Linked DNA regions of Homo sapiens: region 2 is linked to region 1. The links come from fine-mapping of genetic effects on gene expression. Tissue or cell type: tibial nerve. Region 1 holds a variant in brackets; the other region holds the start of a gene. All regions are shown on one strand. Distances are from middle to middle.

The links. PIP is the estimated chance that this variant, and not a neighbour inherited with it, causes the effect.
Region 2: it holds the start of MYH14, and the variant in region 1 is fine-mapped to the expression of MYH14 in tibial nerve (GTEx, PIP 0.99).

The regions. Positions count from the first base shown.
Region 1 is chr19:50,305,741-50,313,560 of GRCh38, forward strand. MYH14 (myosin heavy chain 14) reads left to right here. Exons shown (of 43, transcript NM_001145809.2): 41 at 1,309-1,417; 42 at 3,265-3,437; 43 at 3,900-4,800. The coding sequence ends at 4,050. KCNC3 (potassium voltage-gated channel subfamily C member 3) reads right to left here. Exons shown (of 5, transcript NM_004977.3): 5 at 6,197-7,820. Among named protein-coding and RNA genes, the nearest start is that of KCNC3, 20 kb to the right of the region's middle. RefSeq lists an enhancer at 7,365-7,820. The variant T/G (reference allele first, on the strand shown) is at 4,266.
Region 2 is chr19:50,200,102-50,206,529 of GRCh38, forward strand. MYH14 (myosin heavy chain 14) reads left to right here and starts at 3,521. Exons shown (of 43, transcript NM_001145809.2): 1 at 3,521-3,570. It overlaps LOC124904746 (a long non-coding RNA gene), which reads right to left and starts at 3,875. Exons shown (of 3, transcript XR_007067298.1): 1 at 3,712-3,875. RefSeq lists a silencer at 5,243-5,342.

The DNA.
Region 1 (7,820 bases):
AACATGGCGAGACCCCATCTCTACAAAAATAAAAATTAAAAATTAGCCCAGCATGATGGCACACACCTGTAGTCCTAGCTACTCGGGACACTGAGGTGGGAGGATCGCTTGAGCCCAGGACATTGAGGCTGCAGTGAGCCATGATCACACCATTGCACTCCTGTCTGGGCAACAGAGCAAGGCCCTTTCTCAGAAGAATAATAAAGTCACCCTGGGAGCAAAGAATGACCAGATGATTCTTAGCTGAAGAAGTCTCAGCCGGGCGCAGTGGCTCACGCCTGTAATCCCAGCACTTTGGGAGGCCGAGGCGGGCGGATCATCTGAGGTTGGGAGTTCGAGACCAGCCTGACCAACATGGAGAAACCCTGTCTCTACTAAAAATACAAAATTAGCCAGGTGTGGTGGCACATGCCTGTAATCCCAGCTGCTCGGGAGGCTGAGGCAGGAACAATTGCTTGAACCCAGGATGCAGAGGTTGCGGTGAGCTGGAGATCGTGCCTTTGCACTCCAGCCTGGGCAACAAGAGTGAAACTCTGTCTCAAAAAAAAAGAAGTCTCTCTCCTTCATCCTTTTCCACTGCTTAGTGCCTTCCCACTCGCCCCCAGCCCTGTGCCTTCCTCTCAGCACATCTGGGGCTGTTGTATCCAGGGTGGCTGTCAAGCAATCCCGATTGCTAGAGGTCCCATCACATGGACTTCACCCCAGATGTGATGGTCCATGCAGGAGAGGACAGGTGTAAGGGCAGAAAGAGTGTTCCCTCCCGCTCTGAAGATTCAAGTCTGCTGAAATAAACTGACAATAAATAGATTAACAAAATAAAAGGCTACAAATATATTAATGTGCATGAACACAGGAGCCATGCAAAATATAAGACTTTTTATACAGGGTCAGATGGTTGAGGCTTAAGTATCCTCTTTATAGGGGAGAGAGACAAAAAGGATGTATTCAATTGTGAGAGATAGTAAATGATTTTCAGGGGAAAATGAATGGGCCCAAAGAGTAAACTGTAGTTTGTAAATGATCCTCTTTGGAAACTGAATAGGACCAAACATATACTTATTATAACTCACAACATCATAGGAAACAGGTATGTGAGGTGTCCTAGTAGAAGCCAAGGACATGGATGCCGAGGAGAAGGCAGCCTGCATGTCAGTGTTTGGCCTCAGTAAACTGTGGGAACCACTTAGGGGTTAGGAAAGAGGGAAGAAGCCAATCCAAGAACAAGGTGACAGCCACTGCATGAGTCTATGGGGACAAAATCCTAGGTTGAGCCCCTCTACTGAGACTCCTCCTCATCCCTCTCTTCAGAGAGCGCATCCTCTCTGGAAAGCTGGTGCGCAGAGCTGAGAAGCGGCTTAAAGAGGTGGTGCTCCAGGTGGAGGAGGAGCGGAGGGTGGCTGACCAGCTCCGGGACCAGGTAAGCAGCTGGCATCATTAGGGAGCAGTGGAGAGTGTGACCACTGGCTGAGAAATTGCACAGGCTGTCTCCAGAGGCAATGAGCTCCCATCACAAGAAGCAATGTGCAGGTGCTGGACTGGAACTGAATGCAGATACCATCTTGGCACTTGGCACATCAGCAGAGGGTTGGAATCAGTGAGTTTGCAATTCATAAATGCTGGCATCTAGAAAGGGCCCTGTAGGGAGCTGAGGAAGCCAGGGCAAGGGAAGAAGTTAAACCCTACCCAGAAGCTAGACCAGGACTAGCTTCTATGTACCAGGCACTGTGCTAAAGACATAACATTTACTGTGTTTAATTCTTATCAGAATGGTAGAAGGAAGGTGCTATTATTTACCCTCTTATTTATGTGAGGAAACTGAGGTACAGAAAGGTGAAGTAACTTGCTCAAAATTATTTAGCTGGTAAGAGGTGGGGTCAGTATTCAAACCTCAGCACTCTAGCCCCAGAGTGTGTGTTCTTGATTACTTACTGAGCAGTTACTGTGTCATAAGCAACTGCTTTTTAAAAAATACATATTTGCATTTCCTCACTAGTCCCATTTCACAGATGAAGAAACTGAAACTTTAAGAGGATATATTTTGCATCAGAGTCACAGAGATAGAGCCTGGATCAGATCCCAGGTCTGTCTGGACAGAGTCCCTCTGCCCTTAAAAGCTCAGCTGTGCTTTATTCGCCATTCATTCCACAAACAATTATTGAGCACCTGCTATGTGCCAGACACTGTGGTAGGCATTAGGGATATGGATGTGAACGAAACAGAGGAAGTCCCTGCCCTCATGGAGCTCACATTTTCTGCATAGGATGAGACGTAATAAACCTGTAAACAAGCAGATAATTACAGATTGTGACAAGGGCTATGAAGAAAAAAAGTGAAGAGAGAGGAAGACACAGAGGATTGGGGAATCCTCTTCAGGTTGGGAGATCAGGAAGAACTCTTTGAGAAGGTGACATTTAAATTGATACCTGAAGGGTGAAAAAGAGCCAGTCAGAGGGAACAGCAAGTATAAAGGCCTTGAAGAATAGAAATACGTTTGGTGAGTTCAGAACAAAAAGCAGATTAGTATGGTCTAGATAAACATCTGTTGTTATTTTAGTCCTGGTCTAGCTTCTTGGTAGAGTTTAACTTCTTCCCTCACTTTGGCTGCCTCAGCTCCCTACAAGGGCCCTTCCTAGATGCCAGAATTTATAAATTGCGAAGTCATTGATTCCAACCCTCTGCTGATGTGCCAAGTGCCAGGATGGTATCTGCACTCACTTCCAGTCCAGCACCTGCACGTTGCTTCTTGTGATGGGAGCTCATTGACTCCAGAAAATGTGGGATAGGAAGGCTGAACGATAAGAAATGAGGTCAGATCATGTATGTTCCCTCCCTGAAGAGAGAGGTGGTAGGGTCTGGGGAGGATCTCAGTGAAGTTGGTCTGGACAGTGGGTTTATGGGAAGAGAGAACTGGACAAGAAAAAGACCCTGTGGGGCCTGGAATGCCAGGCTGAGGGGCTGGAACCTTGTCCCGGGGGTACTGGGGAGCCATGAAAGGATTGTGAGCAGGAGGGTCTGGGTCAGCTCTGGGTATAGGAAGACCTTTCTGAGGCCATGTAGGAGACAACCTGGAGGGGAGAGACTGGAGGTCAGGGTAGAGGCTGGCATGAGGGATTTAGGAGAAAAGAACAAGGCCTAAACAGAGAGCAGAGGATGGGGCAGAGAGAGTCAGGGGGCAGTAGGGATGGGGCAGTAGTGGGCTGTTGGAGAGGGAGGGAGTGATGACAGTACCTGGAGATATAACCCAGTCCCCCTGCTTCCATCAAGCTGGAGAAGGGAAACCTTCGAGTCAAGCAGCTGAAGCGGCAGCTGGAGGAGGCCGAGGAGGAGGCATCCCGGGCTCAGGCCGGCCGCCGGAGGCTGCAGCGTGAGCTGGAAGATGTCACAGAGTCGGCCGAGTCCATGAACCGTGAAGTGACCACACTGAGGAACCGGCTTCGGTATGGTCATCCCACGTACAGGCCTGACGGGTGGGGAGCACCCTAACTCCATAAACCCCAGGGACGCGAGGCCGTGCCAGGGGCAACAACAGGGGGAAATGGGATCCACGGGGGTGTGGGGCTGTGGGAGCAGCGGCTGTGTTGCGGGAGAGCCAAATCCAGGTAACTTCTTTCTTCCCACACCCATTTCTCCCTGTCATCTCTGTGCCCTCCTTTCCCACCGTGCACCACCACCTTTCTCTCCTTTCCTCCTCTCTGTGTGTCCTTCATCTCTCTCTGCCCCCCATTGCTTCTGCCCGTCTCCCTCCATTTCTCTTGATCTCATCCCTCTCTTCCCCCTTATTTTGTTCTCTCTCTTCCTATCTCTCTCTCTCTCCCCCTCATCTCTCTCTCTCCTCCCCCTTTCTCCTCCCCTCCCCTCCCCTCATTTCATCTCTGTATCCTGGTCTCTCCTCCCCACAGACGCGGCCCCCTCACCTTCACCACCCGCACGGTGCGCCAGGTCTTCCGACTAGAGGAGGGCGTGGCATCCGACGAGGAGGCAGAGGAAGCACAGCCTGGGTCTGGGCCATCCCCGGAGCCTGAGGGGTCCCCACCAGCCCACCCCCAGTGACCCTACCCTGTCCCCAGATGCACTAACAGATGGGGCCCAGCCCCCTTCCTCCCTGGACCCCACGGGCCCCTGTCCCAGGAACCCCGCCCTCTGACTTCTTGCCCTTTGGAAATGGTGCAGCACTCTGGCATTTATCACCCCCACCTGGGTCCCCTGCAACCTCCCATCAAAGGATGACCCCTAAACACAGAGGAGCGGGGCAGGCAGGGAGGCAA[T/G]GACTGGAGCTACCTTGCTTGTTGGGGGACTGGGTACAGTTGGCAAGCTGTGTTTCCATCAGCTCCCTGTCCTCCTTTCTTCCCTCGTTATTGATCTATAGACATTAGGAAGGGAGTGAGACGGCTCCTCCACCATCCTCAGCCAGTGCAACCCATTCCCTCTGCTTCTCTCTCTCTCTCTCTCTCTCCCTCCCTCTCCTTCCCTACCCTCTCACCATCTTTCTTGGCCTCTCTGAGGGTCTCTCTGTGCATCTTTTTAGGAATCTCGCTCTCACTCTCTACGTAGCCACTCTCCTTCCCCCATTTCTGCGTCCACCCCTGAACTCCTGAGCGACAGAAGCCCCAGGCCTCCACCAGCCTTGAACCCTTGCAAAGGGGCAGGACAAGGGGACCCCTCTCACTCCTGCTGCTGCCCATGCTCTGCCCTCCCTTCTGGTTGCTCTGAGGGTTCGGAGCTTCCCTCTGGGACTAAAGGAGTGTCCTTTACCCTCCCAGCCTCCAGGCTCTGGCAGAAATAAACTCCAACCCGACTGGACCATCTCTGTGGCTGTGTGTGTTCCTGCAGGGGGTCTCTGATGGGGCAGGATGGGCACAGGCTGCTTCAGCCTGCTAGGGCAGCAGGTCAGGCAGCCTGCTGGTTAGAATGACACCTGCGTGGGTATACAGGGACATCCTGTGGATCAGGCGCTTCATAACTCCTTTCCTCCTGACTCCAGTGTATAATGGAAATATTCCCTGCATTATACAGATGAGGGAACAGTCTCAGAGCAGCAGCATCCCTCACTCCACGCCCCCAGTGAGTGCTAGAAGGGGTGTTGCACTCGGGCCAACTCTTAAGTTTTGCAAAATAAATGACAGGCCTGCTGCAGTGGCTCATACCTGTGATCCCAGTGCTTCGGGAGGCTGAGGTGGGAGGATCACTTGAGCCCAGGGGGTGGAGGCTGCAGTGAGCTATGATTGCATCACTGCACTGTAGCATGGGTGAAGAGTGAGATCCTGTCCCAAAAGCAAAACAAAACAAAAAGACAGCCGTGGTCGTTTGTGCTGCGTGCTGTGCTAAGCACACAGTTTATCTTAACCCTTACATAGCACTACAGGTAGAGATTTCATTGCACTCCAGTGCCTAGAACAGTGTCTGGCACACAGCAGGCATTCACTCAATATTTGCTGAATAACTAAGTGATGCCCCTCCCACCCTTTTAGAGTGGTGGAAACAGGCTCAGAGAGGCTGAGTGACTTGCCCAAGGACACACAGCTACTAAGAAGTTGAAACAGTTTGAACCCAGACAGTCTGGCCTCAGAGTCAGCACATATAGAGGCTGAGCCCTCAGCCCCTGACCCCACCTTGGGGACCCAGGTCTGTCTCTCTCGTGGGAACTAGGCACCCTCGTGTGGGGGCTCACGTTCGTCAGACTGAGTCCTCAGTGACTTTTCAGTTAGAGGTGTGGATCCCCATTTTTACTATCAGGGAAACTGAGGCAGGTGCTTGCCCTAAATAAGGTGCAAGCCGTGGAGCAGATGTCACGATCACCAAAGCCCATCCTCCCCTTTTTTAAAAAATTGAGAAAGGGTCTCACTCTGTCACCCAGGCTGGAGTGCGGTGGCACAATCATAGCTCCCTGCAGCCTCGACCTCCCAGGCTCAAGCGATCCTCTCGCCTCAGCCTCCAGAGTAGCTGGGACTACAGATGCCACCACACCTGGCTAATTTTATTTTATTTTTTGTAAAGACAGGGTCTCTCTTGTGTTGCCCAGCCTGGTCTTGAACTCCTGGCCTCAAGCGATCTTCCTGCGTCCTTGGCCTCCCAAAGTGCTTGGATTACTGGCCTGAGCCACTGTGCCCAGCAATAGGGCCCCACTCTAGAAGTCCCAATCCCTCTGTGCGCCCCAGCCGCAATCAGGAGACTTTCCGAACAGGCACACAGGAGGCCATTTTTAAATGAAAAGGAAACGTTTATTTTGGTGGGGAGTGAGGGTGGGTGGGAAGGGGGCATGACACTTTTTCTTTGGGGAGAGGGGGGTGACATGCGGCAGCTTCTGCATTGGGCGGTTCATGCACCCAGGGTGGGCGTGGGGGAGGCTTGGGGAAGGGGCCACGCCGACCCCTCCCTCCCTGCCCTGCGGGTGGGCTGAGAAGACCCGCCATTAGCACCAGAGTTGGACGATTTGCAGACCTCCCCTCCCCACACTGTCTCCGAACCCCGCCCCCATCCCTGAGAGCGCCCCCTCACCACTCCCCCCACCAGCGACAGGCTAGGCCCGCCCCGCCCACATTTGAGTGAGAGAAACTTATTGCTCTGTGTGTGTGTGTGTGTGTGTTGGGGAGGGTGAGCCGCGGAGCTCAGGAAGACCCCCCGCCATTCATTCCTCCCCAATCGCCCCGCCCCCTGGCCCGTGTCCGTGCGTTCCCGGAGCGCAGGAGGGGTGCGACATGCGTGTGGGGGGCGCGTCATGCAGCGCATGCGTGTAGGTGCAGGCACCCTGGCGGCCGGGGGGAAAAGGGGGAGCCGGACTTGGAAAGAGTCCCTTTAGCTCGCTCTCTCCCTCCCCGAATCCCACACTATTGACTTGGGGGATGGGGTGGGAGGGGAGGAGAATCACGTTTTGTAGAAGTTTATCATGATTGTGGTTATTTTGAAAAGCTGAACTCAAAAGCTGGGTACGTGTGGCGGACTGGCGAGCAGGGGGAGACGTTGGGAAGAGGTCAGTACCCTTTGGAAAAGACCCTCACCCCCTTTCCCCGCCTCCTTCGGCTTTCGTGAAGGTCAGGGGAAACGGGGGGGCTTGTTAAAGAAGTTGAACCCTTTGGCAATATAATCAGTCCCCACCCCGTACCCTGGTGTCTGGAGCCCCTAGCCCTTTGCCCCGCCCCCACCAAAACCCGCCCCACCCCTCACCCCTGCTTCACCAGGGTTTAGGGTCCGAGGGAAGGATGGGGGGGACTCAAAATGCCCCTTGCATAGGAATCGTTGCATCGAGAATCGTGCTCAGTGACGCCCCCCATCCACCCTCGGGTGGGGGGTTCCTGAGGCCGTGGGAGCAGAGGGAGGGAGGTGGCTAATTCCGTGGGACCCCGGCTCCAAAAGGGGGGTCCGCTAAAGAGTCTGGGACCGGTGTGGTCTCTGGGCTTGGGGGAGGTAGCGCATCCTTGAGCCAGGATAGGAGGTGGGAAATGATTTTCCACCCGCGAGCGTGACGCGGTGAGGACCGCTGGGGAAGGGGGGCTGGGATCCCAGCCGAGCTGGGTGTTGTCGGTTCCCAATCTTCTGATACTCCAGTGTTCCTCCCTTCGGGAACAGCCTCTGTGATCATCTGTGGACTACTTTAAATGGAAACACTCTTAACCTAAATAAACCGTGTCCTAGCCAAGCAGCGATGCCTGCACTTATCGGCTTCTGTACAAAATGCGTATTAGAGACAAAACTTTTAAAACAAGTGTTTGTCCTCATACTGCCTCAAACCTTAGCACACCACCAAAGGTACAAATACAACCCTCTGGGAAACACTGGTGTCTGTGAAGAGGGTACCTTTGGGGCACCATCTCAGGGAAGAGACT
Region 2 (6,428 bases), 110 kb before region 1:
TTGATGACATCTCCAATTATGAGGTCAATTTAGAACCTGGTGGGCATGATGATATCACAAGTTGCCAGGTAAATCTACCTGGGTAATCCCAGGCTAAATCTAGCCCTGGGTAGTGTTGATGACATCACCAGTTACCAGGCAGATTATAGTTAAAATGTGGGTGCCCAGTGCCTTCTTTCCTGTTTGAAATTCTGTTGTGTCCCAGTCCATACTCTTTCCTAGCACCGTTGGGAACAGGACTTTCATGTCTCTGGACCTCAATTTTTCTTTCTTTCTCTTTCTTTCTTTCTTTCTTCTCTCTCTTTTTTTTTTTTTTTTTTTTGAGTTTTTTGTGATAGAGTCTCAGTCTGTCACCCAGGCTGGAGTGCAATGGCACAATCTTGGCTCACTGCAAACTCCACCTCCCGAGCTCAAGCAATTCTCCTGCCTCAGCCTCCCAAGTAGCTGGGACTACAGGCGCCCACTGTCATGCCTGGCTTATTTTTGTATTTTTAGTAGAGATAGGGTTTCACCATGTTGGGTAGGCTGGTCTCAAACTCCTGGCCTCAGGTGATCCTCCCACCTCAGCCCCAAAAATTGCTGGGATTACAGGGGTGAGCCACTGTGCCTGGCGTGGACCTCAGTTTTCTATCCATCAAATGGGGATAATAAAAGCACCAGCCTCGTAGGGTTGTGGAGAGAATCCAATGAGTTAATACATAAAAGGGCAAAATGTCCAGCACACAGTCAGCACTCCATACACAGCAGCACTCATTATCTTTACTGTAGGATGTTTCCATGGAGCACGCTCCAGCCAGAGTGACAGGAGCCCTCAGCTCTGTCTTGGTTAAGACAGATGCCTGCAGGGGCCTGTTTCCTAGGAGTTGGAGCCCAGATCCGCCATTAGCAGTAGTCAGGAGACCCTGGACATGTTGCTAGCCTATAAAGTGGGGTAATGACCATGCCAGCCTCACGGGGCTGGCATGAGGATGCACTGACATAATGACAGTCATGTTTCCAGCACACAATCAGACCTCACAACTGTGAGCTGTGTTATCACTGCGAGTACTCTCAGAAAGGTCCTTTTCTCCCCAGGATGTTGTTTCCCCATCTGCAAAGAAGTGGAAGGTGGCTGTGGCAATCTCAAAGCCATGGCAATCTTGACACTATGACCACAGGGATGGTCCTGTGATTCACCTTTGCTGTTGCTGAGCAAGTGCATTGGGAGTTGGATGCTTGAATCTGTGTCTGCCCTCAGCACCCAACTCCAGCTTCTCTTGTCTCTTTTCTGCCCATCTCTTATCTCCCAACATTTCCTTTCATATTTCTTTGGCTTCTTGCTCGTACGCTAGACTTCGTATGTATATAGTTTCTCTCCTGCATGCTGTTTGTAGGACAATAAATGGCAATAGTCATGATAATCAGTATTTTCTTTTTCTTTTCTTTCTTTTTTTTTTGAGATGGAATCACTCTGCCACCCAGGCTGGAGTGCAGTGGTGCTATCTCCGCTCACTGCAACCTCCGCCTCCTGGGTTCCAGTGATTCTCCTGCCTCAGCCTCCCGAAAAGCTGGGATTACAGGCGTGGGCCACTATGCCTGGATAATTTTTGTATTTTTAGTAGAGACGGGGTTTCACCATGTTGGCCAGGCTGCTCTCGAACTCCTGACTTCAAGTGATCTGCCTGCCTCAGCTTCCCAAAGTGCTGGAATTAGAGGCGTGAGCCACCGCTCCTGGCCAGTACTTTCTTATTCAGCCTTTTCCCTGGTGCCAGGACTGTACTAAGAGCTTTGTAGGCACTAATTCACTTAATCCACTCAATACAAGCACTCATTACCATTTACTCAACAAACACTTATTAAACACCTACTGTGTGCCAGGCACTGAGGATTCGGCACTGAACAAAATAAAGATCTTTGTCCTCGTGGGACTTAAATTCTAGTGAGGAGACAGATGATAAACAGATAAATTAGCAAACACTCCCAGTGCTATGAGAAAAAGCAAAGCGGGGTTAAACGAGAGAGAGTGATGAGAGGAACTGTCTTATATAGGATGGCCAGGAAAGGCCTCTTGGAAGAGGTGATATTGGAGCAGAACGGATGATGTGGGAGAGAGGTTGTCATGCAAAACCTGGGGAAGAGCATTCCTGGTGGACCCAACAGAGAATGCAAAGGCCTTGGGGCAGCACCAGGCCTCCTGGTTTGAGAAATTGAGCCAGTGTAGCTGGAGCAGTATGAAGGGGAGGGCCTGGGGGTGAGATCAGAGAGAGCAAAAGGGCCAGCCACATCCCGCAGGACCTCATTGGCCATGGTGAGTTCTTAGACTTTTACTGAGTGAAATGGGAGCCATGGAAGGCTCTGAACAGAGGAAAGGCCCCATCTGAATAGAGTAGACTGTAGGGAGAGCAAGGGTGAAGGCAGACAGTCCATCACTCCCATTTTACGAGTGCAGAAATAAATGGAATCTCAAAAAAGTCCAGCAACTGGCCTGAGCCCACACAGCTGCTGAGCAGCCGAGCCAAGCTGGCAGGCCTCCTTGGGTTCAGTGGAGCCATTCCTTTGTGCCCTTGGCTCTTTTTATTTTCCTTTTAAATAGAGATGGGGCCTATGTTGCCCAGGCTGGTCTTGACCTCCTGGGCTCAAGTGATCCTCCCACCCTGGCCTCCCAAAGTGTTGGGATTACAGGTGTGAGCCACGGCACCCTTCCAACCTTGGGAAGTCTTTTGGCTCTCCTGAGCCTCAGTTTTCCCATCTGTAAATTGTAAATGGGGAATCATTACCACGTTTGGGCATAGCATGGCGGTTAAAAGCACAACTTCTGGTTGGATCTGAGTCCTTGCTCTGCCATCGGCCAGCTCTGTGACTTTCTGCAATTAACACCCTCTTTCTAAGCTTGGGGTTACCTCATCTAGAAGATGAAGATCTTAATAGCACCAATTTCAAGGGCTTCGTTGTAAGGATTAAATGAGATCATGCAGGTAAGGCGCTTAGCACAGCTCCCGGTCTACATCGAAGTGCTTGATAAACGATCATTGTTATTCCGATAGTATCACGGCCCACACCTCCCCGGTGGGTGAGAGCCTGGGAGGGTGCCTGGTACATGGTCTACGTTCGACAAAAGTGAATTCTGTCTCCTGTCTCTCCTGCCCGCCGGGTCCCGGGGGACCCAGGCATTCCGGCCTTCGGTCGGCCCCCCCACGCCGGCCCTTACAAAGGCCCCCATTCATGCCTTGCGCACAAAGCGGCCCATTCACCCTGGCCCCTTGGGCCTCCCGCCCCCGGCCGCCCCCCGCGCCTCGCTATTGGTGGCGCCCCGTGCCCATCAGGCCTCGGCTTCCACCCCCGACCGCGCCGCCTAGCTCCGCGCCCGGGCCGCGTTCTTTTCCCACGGCTGGCACCCTTCGACAACTTCTGATTGGCCCAGCCCGCCAGCCGCTCTTTTTGATTGGCGGCTCCCGTCCCCCAGGGGCGGGGCCGTAGCTTGCCGCAGCGGGCGCCGATTGGCCTCTGCTGCTCTCTTGGGGGCGGGGCTGTCCTGGCGGACACGCCCCTCTTTCTCCCCAGGCCGAAGCCTCGGGACGGCCCTGGAAGCCGGTGAGTGCCCGGGGCCGGCAGCCCTCCGGGGGCGGCGGAACGGGACTGAGCCAGGGGAAGCTGGAGCCTGGGGGCTGCGATCGGGGCCCGGGAGCCCGGGCAGGCGGCCGGGGACGGCGGGGAGGTGACGCGGACACTCACCTTGGGCGCGCAGCGGGACGGCGGCGAGGGAGGTGGGGGGGCGGGACGTCTACACTCCCCCAACTCCAGTTGCCGCCGTGTGCGAGGCCCGGTCGGGGTCCTCGTTGTCAGCCCCGGGCCTGTTCCGCAGAAGGGGAAACTGAGGCTGTCTTTGGAACCTCGGCCGCTTTAATACCTGAGTCATCGCCTCCAGTCCCCCGCCCCCAGCATGACATGTCTCTGTTCTCACGTGTCAGAATCGGAGGCCAGAGAGAGGGGTCGTGACTGGAAGAGGCGGAGGGGTAGGGAAGGACATATTTGAGAACCTATGATGTACTTGGACGCTTTTATTTTTTATAACTAAATAATTTCCTTTCCTTATCGTGTTGACTCGAGGTGAGTTATATTGTACCCATTATACAGAGAGGGGAAGGCTGAGACTGGGCCGAATTGGTGACTGCAGGGGGACCTGGTGGAGAAGAACACTCCAGAGACCAACTGTGTGCTGGGTCCTTTAACCTTTTCAGTCCCACAGGAGTCCCCTAAGGAAAGCGGTGGTCCCTGTGGCATAGATGGGGAAGCAGGTTGGTAGTAATCACCAACTGGGACGCAGAAATTCATGTCTTTAGGGACCTGCTACAAGTTCTTTCCAGACCCCCTCCTTTAGAATGGCAGAAAACGGTATAGGCTTGAATTCCAGACCTCCCTCTTACGCTGTGTGATCTTGAGTGCCTTACTTTGACCCTTCCTGCCTCAGTTTCCACATCAGAGAAATGGACATGCTGATCACCCCTATGTCATTGGTTGTTGAGGTTATTCTAGGCCGGGCGCAGTGGCTCAGGCCTGTAATCCCAGCACTTTGGGAGGTGGAAGCGAAAGAATCGCTTGAGCCCAGGAGTTCGAGACCAGCTTGGGCAACACAGCGAGACTTCGTCTCTACAAAAAGTAAAAGAGTTAGCCGGGCGTGGTGGCGTGACCCTGCTGTCCCAGCTACTCGGGAGGCTGAGCAGGGAGGATCGGTTGAGCCCAGGAGGTCAAGGCTGCAGTGAGCCATGATCGTGGCATTGCACTCCAAGCTGGGCAACAGAGAGAGACCCTGTCTCTCCCTCTTTTTTTTTTTTTAAATCATTTTATGATCTCAAAGAGCTGTTCTAAGAGGAGAAAATACCCGACACATAGTAGGTACTCTTATCACCATGTAGTCTTTATTTCACTCCCGAGACTGAAGCTCAGGACAGAATACCATTGTCCTCTTCTTTGGTACTCTTACTGTCTATAGATTTTGTTGTTCCCTTCCCGCAGTTGGGAAACTGAGGCTCAGGGAGATTAATGATGAAGCACTGGGCTGGGGAACTTTCTGAACGTCGTTTTATTAATTTCACTGGCCGCAATGCACAGCAGGGAAAGCTGAGGCCCAGGAAGCTCCAGCGGGGTTTGAATCCCGGGAATCCTCAGCCTTCTCCGCGGCGGGCCCTCGACCTTTGCCCTCCATAAGGGGGAGGAGCCCCTGGCGCCGCCGCCGCCGCCGCCCACCTGGCAACAGGCTCAACCCCCGCCTTCCCCCGGCCCCCGTCAGAGGCCCTGAAGCTCCAGGCCCGCCCCGTTCCCAGCCGGGCAGGTGCTGGGTGACATCAGAGCCGGGCTCCCGCCCTGTGACGCGACGGGGCCCCGCCCTGCGCTGGACCGCGGAGGTCGCTGCACCTGAAGAGAACGGGGATTCCCGCGCCCTCACCCCATCTCCCCGCTCCGGTCGGCGCCCCCAGGTAGCCCCGAGGATCTGCGAGTTGAGGGGGCGGCGACACAGGCGCTTGGGTCCAGGGGAATGGGTACGGGGCTCTCAGACTCCTGGATCTGAGAAGGGGCCTTGGGGGCCGGCTGTCCCAGGTCTGAGGAAGGACTGCGCCGCGAGCCCGAACTTCTGGGTCCTGGGGGAGGAAAGGACTGGGGCCAGGACTGCAGAGCTGGGGTCTTAGGGGAGGAGGGGGCTGCAAGCCCGGATTCTGGGGTCTGTAGGAGCAGGGGCTGGGGGCCTGAACTCCTGGGTCTGAGACAGGAGGGCATTGAGTACTGGGACTCCGGAAACCCAGCGCTAGAAGCCAGGGTCAGACGGCTGGATGCCAAGGGCCCCAACCTCTGCCCCAGGGCGGATCCCTGGCTGCTTTTCTTTTTCAAGCCCAGCAGTCTCGGCCCCTCCCAGGGCAGGTGCTTTCACCTGCCCAGGTGACAGTAATTAGCCCTGGCAGAGTGTTCCTGCTGGTTGAGGAAGGGTAGGGCAGTCAGAGAGGCTCGGCCACTTGGAGCCAAGGCCTGCAGGCCCTGCCCGCCCCATCAGGGCTGTGATCCATCTTCAGAACTCAGCATCCTCACCTCTAGCCCGGCTGCAGTGAGGTGAGGGGGCCTGCACTTCCCAATCCATAGGAGGAGGGGGCTGGGGGCTCAGACTCCTGGGTCCTGGGAGAGGAGGAGGCTGGGAGCTCGGACTCCTCAGCCTGGGGAAGGAAAGGGCTGGGGGCTTGGACTCTTGGCTCCAGGGAGGAGAGGCATAGGGCATAGGGTGATTGCAAAAACTCCGAAACCCTTCCTGGTCAAAGGCCACAGGGCTGGTGAGGAAGTGGATGGGGTGGGGTGGGGTGGGTGGGGGTGAGGGTAAAGTCCCAGGGATGGAGTTTGGGTCCGGTGTATCCAGGTCACACTGGAGATATGGGGTGAGCCTTGACGATTTGGGGGCCACGGGGTGG